2 linked regions of the Homo sapiens genome follow. The protein of the gene in region 2 purifies or fractionates together with the protein of the main gene of each other region. This does not show direct contact. Each region holds a gene or a part of one and is shown on either strand. Other genes may lie near its edges.

Region 1 (3,831 bases), on a different chromosome or scaffold from region 2:
TTTTAGGTTTTGGATTTTGGACTTTGAGATTAGGAATGTTCAACCTATATGTTGGAGATCCTGGCAGTATCATTGCTGGAATTGGCTGCGTATACTCCATTGTTTGGCTGTATAATAATTTAACCAGTCCCATTTTAGGGCATGAGGGTTTTTCACATTCTTTTGCTATTACAGTGGTGCAACAAATACACTATGTAAATTCTTGTACATATTCAAACTGAGTGTCATCTTTGTGTTTATCCCATTGATACTTATTGATAATGACAACTGTTTAGTCTTAGTTTTGTCATGCTCATACTTTTTGTTTTTTCTTAATTTGAAAAATCTTTACATTATGTCTTTACTTTTTTCATATGCCTGTGTTTTCTAATAGTTTGGAAGGTTTATGTGTGTGTGTTCTAGCTGTTACCTTTATAACTACAATTTGATATTATCTACCTTATCTACCATATATACACGGTATTTTTTGAATCCCTGCTAAAAGCAATGATGAAATTGGCATATTTATACTTTTTTCCTTTATTTTTCAGTTATTTTTCTTAGTGTTCACCCTTAAACTTTTAAATATACTTACATTTTATTTATCAGCTTTAACTTCTATCCTTTGACCTCTGGGTGTAAGAGATGAGGGTATCAGTATGCCCATTTACATGCCAGTTTGTAACATTTACCTTCTGCTTTATAATCACAATCCCTACACTTGTTTTCATTTTAGTGATATAATTAAATAGATTATAGGCACATTATTTGTCCTTTTGTTATAATTTGTATCTGTTGAATGGCATGAGTTCAGAAATGTTTGTCTTTCACCTTTATATTTGGCTGATAGTTTGGGTATAAAATTTGGAGTTAGGCTTTCTTTCCTTAAGAATATTGTAGTCAGTGTTCATTCTCTTTTGTAAAAGATTTATTTTTTTAGACAAGATCTTGCTCTGTTGTCTAAGCTGGAGTGCATTGGCGTGATCATAGCTCATTGGAGCCTTGACCTCCCAGGCTCAAGCAGTCCTCCCATCTCAGCTTCCTGAGTAGCTGGGACTACAGGCACGTGCCACCATGCCCAGTTAATTTTTGTATTTTTTTGTGGAGACAGAGTTTTGCCATGTTGCCCAGTCTGGTCTCAAACTCCTAAGTTCAAGTGATCCACTTGCTTCAGCTTCCTAAAGTGCTGGGATTACAGGCATGAGCCACCATATCCAGCCCAGACTTTTTTTCTTGTCATTATTTCCCAAACAATACAGTATAACAACTATTTCCATAGCATTTACATTGTATCAGGTATCATAGGTAAGATAGAGATGATTTAAGTTACTCTTGAGAGGATGTGTGTAGGTCATATGTAGACACTATACCATTTTATATGAGGGACTTTTGAGCATCTTTGGGTTTTGGTGTCTTTGGCGGTCCTGGAACCAGTGTCCCCCACGGATACCAACTGTCCATAAGCAAAGTAGAGGTTTATTTGTTTGATTATAGTGGTGAGAAATGAATGAATTTCTTTCTCTGTCCTTTACAGGAAGAAGTTCTAAAGGATTTTGAAGACTTGGCTGGAAAACTCCCATGGTCAAACCCCTTAAAAGTGTGGAAAATTAATGCCAGTTTTAAAAAGAAAAAAGCAAAGCGCAAAAAGATAAATCAGAATTCAAGTAAAGAGAAGATTAATAATGGACAAGAAGTCAAAATCGATCAGAGAAATGTTAAAAAAGAGTTCACTAGCCATGCTTTAGATTCTCATATCTTAGATTATTATGAAAATCCAGCCATCAAAGAGGATGTATCAACATTAATAGGTGATGATTTGGCATCTTGCAAAGATGAGACTGATGAAAGCTCAAAAGAAGAAACTGAGCCTCAAGTGCTGAAGTTTAGAGTCACATGCAACAGGGCAGGAGAGAAACATTGCTTTACCTCAAATGAGGCTGCAAGAGATTTTGGGGGTGCTGTTCAAGATTATTTTAAGTGGAAGGCCGACATGACCAACTTTGATGTGGAGGTAGGTATAGGCTCTGACTGTGGTGATTGAAGAATGCTGTCACAGATTTGTAGAATTTCCAGACTAACCCAATGTTATGCACAATTAAACTGAGGAAATAGTAGGGTGTGGTTAAGAAGAGCATAGGCTATGGAGACAGATTTAGATCCAAATTTTAACTCCACAACTGTATAACTTTGGACTAGATAGTCTCTGAGCCTCTGTTTCAAATGGAGCCAATAATATTATGTACCTTTAAGGTTATCCTGAAGGATAAATGAGGTACATTTAAAATATTTGGTGCAATACCTTGCATACACTAAGTGCTCCATAGATGGAAGCCATCAAGGTTGAGTTGTCTGTTTTCTTTTTCTTTTTCGAGACAGAGTCTTGCTCTGTCACCCAGGCTAGAGTGCAGTGGTACGATCTCAGCTCACTGCAGCCTCCACCTTCCTGGTTCAAGTGATTCTTGTGCTCAGCCTCCCAAGTAGCTGGGGCTACAGGCACATGCCACCACACCTGGCTAATTTTTGTATTTTTTAATAGACATGGGGTTTCACCCTGTTGGCCAGGCTGGTCTCAAACTCCTGTAGTGATCTGCCTGTCTTGGCCTCCCAAAGTGCTGGGATTATAGCTGCACCTGGCCTGATTTCTAATAGACTACTCTTTTACTATATTATATGGACTTTCATATTATAAAATTCAACCAGAATTAAAATAGTTATTTTGTTTTTGTGTGTCTTGGTTGCAGAGCTTTGCTACTGAAAAAATAAAATAAGGCTGGGCGCAGTGGCTCACGCCTGTAATCCCAGCACTTTGGGAGGGAGGCCGAGGCAGGTGGATCACTTGAGGTCAGGAATTTGAGACCAGCGTGGCCAATATGGTGAAACCCTGTCTCTACTAAAAATACAAAAATTGGCCCGTCATGATGGCACACTCCTGTGGTCCCAGCTACTGGGGAGGCTGAGGCAGGAGAATCACTTGAACCAGGGAGGTGGAGGTTGCAGTGAGCCAAGATCATGCCACTGCACTTCAGCGTGGGTGACAGAGCAAGACTCCATCTCCAAAAAAAAAAAAAGTGCATTTTTTAAACAAACCCTGACCTTCTCAAACCAGGACATCATTGCTAATACTCATCCTAGAGTCAGCTCTCCTCTTTCTTAAATTCTGCTAGATTTCCAAAGCCAGGTACCTCATTTTAGTATATTTACTTTCCTTGGTCTTAATCCTCTTTTATCTGGGTGATTGACATGTGAACCATAGGAACTAAAGTATTTAAGTCTCTGACACCTTAAAACATCTCTAGCAGCTGATATATTTACCAAAGAGTCAATTTCCGTTGCTTTTGGGACACTTGAATCTGGGGCAAGTCACTGATTCTAACTTTTTTGTGCATGTCAAATCAGGAGTCTAATTCCCCATTCCTTTTTTTCCTCATACACTGCCTTGCAAATGAATACGTGGCTCACACCTGTAATTCCAGTACTTTGGGAGGCCTTGGCAGGCAGATCGCTTGAGCCCAAGAATTTGAGACCAGCCTGGGCAAAATAGTGAGACCCTGTCTCCACTAAAAATAAAATAAATATTTTAAAAAATAAAATGAATAGGTTAACCAGAACAGTGATGTCTAAAAGTTAGCAAGGTGATTCAGAGGAGTTTCTGGAGCCGTGCTGCATTGGTTTAAATCCCAGAGGAGGCTGGGTGTGGTGACACACACCTGTAATCCCAGCACTTTGGGAGGTCAAGATTGGAGGATTGTTTCAGGCCAGGAGTTCTAGACCAGCCTAGGCGACATAGGGAGACCCTGTCTCTACAAAAAATAAAAAAAAAATTAGCTGAGTATGATGACAGACACCTATAGT
Region 2 (2,967 bases):
CATAATATTTTGTTGTATGGCTGCAGTATAACTTATTTTTAATCAGGCCCTTTTAATGGATATTTAGGTCATTTTTGACTTTTTTTTTTGTTGCTTAAGACAGGATCTCACTATGTTGCCCAGGCTGAACTCAAGCGATCCTCTCGCCTCAGCTCCCAGAGTAACAGGCTACAGCTGTGATTCAACACACCTGGCTCATTTCTAACTCTTTTGCTGCTGCAAATAATGCTGCAGTGAATAAGCTAGTACTTAGCTCATTTTCCACATGTGTGATTATATTTACAGAATGAAGCCTGGAAGTGGAATTGCTCAATCAAAGCCTGTATGCATTGATAATGTTTATAGCTATTGTCAAATTGCCCTCTGTGGAGGTTGTACCAACTGACATTCTCACCAATGTTATGAAAGTGCCCATTTTGCCCTACCTTTGCCAGCAGAGTATTTTAAGCCTTTTGATATTTATCAATCTGCCAGGTTAAAAAAAGAGGTAGCCCAGGGTAGTTTACTTTGCATGTCTTTTATTCTGATGCATTGCACGTTCTTCCATGCATTGATGAGGCGTGTGCTCCTTCCTCAGCTGGCAGTTTACTGTCCTGGTCTGAGGATCTTCTGGGGACTGGTCTCTCTTGCTGACTCTTTCGTGTCATTTTCACAAACAACCTTTTGAGGAAAAAAAGTCTTAAGGACAAACACATGCTGGCAATTAGCGCCATCGACATTCCAGATATCGGGGCTGGGAAGGCAGGGTGAGACCTGCTGGGTGTCATCGTTCTGCTCTGAACTAGGAGGACTGACTTTCAGAGGGTTCTCGGTGTCCTCTTCTTCCACAGCGCTCCTGTTGACACAAACAGCCTCATGTTCCTCCAGATTTTTGATGGGGACCACGTGGCAGGCGTTGTATTTGCAGGTGGCCATCTTTTTGGCTTTCTTGGGGTTCTTTCTCCTGCACGATGCCAGGTGGTACTGGAATCTGCTGAGTGGGATTCGGTGGTGAGGATCATAAGGGCAAATTTCAAAGGCTTCTGGCTCCATGAGAAATTCTTGAAGCAGGGTATCTCACTGCTAGAGTCTAACGGAAATGCTTCTTGTGGAGAAGCCCTTTTGTAAGAAGGATGGAGTTGTCCTCTGCCCAGTTTTGGCCCTTGGGATTCTGTAGGTGACGGTCTTAACTTGTGGTCTGTTCTCTAGGACTGTGAGTGGTGGATTAGAAGAGAGATGAGGAGCTGCCAAAAGCAGCTACACAGAGAACAGAGTTAGCAAATGGCACCCGAGACAGAACTATAGCAGATGCAAGAGCCAAAAACCCACAGCCGCTTGACTCACGGATATACTATGATGTCAAGCTGCAGTCACCGGTGGTCACAATGGGCAGCCTAAGTCATCAGGAAGAGGCTATTGTGCACTGCTTGGGAGGGGTGGATGGCTTTGGGAATGCTGCCATCTAAAATTGCTCATGGATGTATGTTGTGACTTAAGTCTTTTAACTGTACGTATTTGTTTTTTGTTTTTGTTTTTGTTTTATTTGAGACAGAGTCTCGCTCTGTTGCCAGGCTGGAGTACAGTGGTGCGATCTTGGCCCACTGCAATCTCCGCCTCCCAGGTTCAAGTGATTCTCCTGCCTCAGGCTCCCGAGTAGCTGGGATTACAGGCACCTGCCATCATGCCCGGCTAATTTTTTGTATTTTTAGTAGAGACGGGTTTCACCATGTTGGCCAGGCTGGTCTTGAACTCCTGACCTCAGGTGATCCACCCGCCTCAGCCCCCCAAAGTGCTGGGATGATAGGTGTGAGCCCCTGCGCTTTGCCAGGGCTGGTTTTTGGATGTGATTCTCAGGGCCGTCTTTCTTTACCCTTCTGCTCTGCTGAGGCCCACAGCAGCCTAGTCTCCTTGGGTGTGGGGGAAGGGTTTAAATCTATTCATATATCGCAGAAGGTGAAGCCTTTTGGTGTTCAGCTTAACATGGGAAACATTTCCTATAAAACGCCCCATCTTAGGTCGACCCTGCCGTTGTCCCTCACAGAACTGGACCAAAGTCTGAATGGACGCAATTGACACATATCTCAGGGTGTTAGTGGTTTTGGTCCTCTGACATTCTATTTACATGTCTGGTGTTAGGTAGGATTTCTTCTAAAAATTGGCCTGGAGCTCCTTCCCACCCCCCACCCTGTTAAATTGTTTCTCAAGATCTGAGTGACAGTAGAGAAATACCATATTCCTGAATAGGAAGACTCAAAATCATAAATGAATATTCTCTGTAAACTAAATTACATAAATTACATAGTCATCCTAAATTGATACATAAATATAATGCAATTCCAAATAATTTTTGTAGCTTTATGTGCTGATATCTGATAGAGCAAGTCTCTGCTTGTTATTAGTTTTCCCCCCAAAAGCCTTGACTATCTTCAAGGATTTGTTATTCTAGATCATGTGTCAACAAACTATGGGCCCATGATTCAAATCCAGATGGCTATCTGCTTTTGTAAATAAAGTTTTATTGAAGCACAGCCACACCCATTTGTTTATATATTGTCCATTGGCTGCTTTTGAGCTAGATTTGAGTAGTTGCAACAGAATCCAGATGACCTAGAAACCTCTAATGTTTTCTGTCTGGCCCATTATAGAAAAAGCTCACCCATCCTATTCTTGGTGGTGGTTAAGGAAGCTGACTGTATTCAAATTCTACCTCCTGCCACTTACCAGCCATGTGACCTTGGGGAAGGTGTGTGTGTGAGTGTGTGTGTGTGTATGTGTGTGTGTGTGTTTCCTGGTATTTACTAAGCTCTATTGATGGTGTCTTTTCAGGTAGGCTTTGTAGTTTTCTTTCTATTTTTTGCACGTTAAAAAAAAATTAATCTATGATGCTTTATGGTTTTTTCTTTTTCTTTTTTTTTTGTCATTGTAAATGACACTTTTTCCATCTCTCCACATCCTAGCTATGGTGTTCAGCCTTTTTTGAGAATTGAA

The links.
Region 1: the proteins of GTSF1L (region 2) and THUMPD3 purify together in Homo sapiens (affinity purification with mass spectrometry; one large-scale study listed by BioGRID and IntAct). This does not show direct contact.

Annotation. Positions count from the first base shown.
Region 1 is NC_000003.12:9,369,547-9,373,377, forward strand, and holds part of THUMPD3 (tRNA (guanine(6)-N(2))-methyltransferase THUMP3), read left to right. Parts: intron 1-1,513; coding exon 1,514-1,990; intron 1,991-3,831. UniProt on the Homo sapiens protein: Catalytic subunit of the THUMPD3-TRM112 methyltransferase complex, that specifically mediates the S-adenosyl-L-methionine-dependent N(2)-methylation of guanosine nucleotide at position 6 (m2G6) in tRNAs.
Region 2 is NC_000020.11:43,725,663-43,728,629, forward strand, and holds GTSF1L (gametocyte-specific factor 1-like), read right to left. Parts: upstream 1,341-2,967; 5' UTR 1,033-1,340; coding exon 586-1,032; 3' UTR 502-585; downstream 1-501.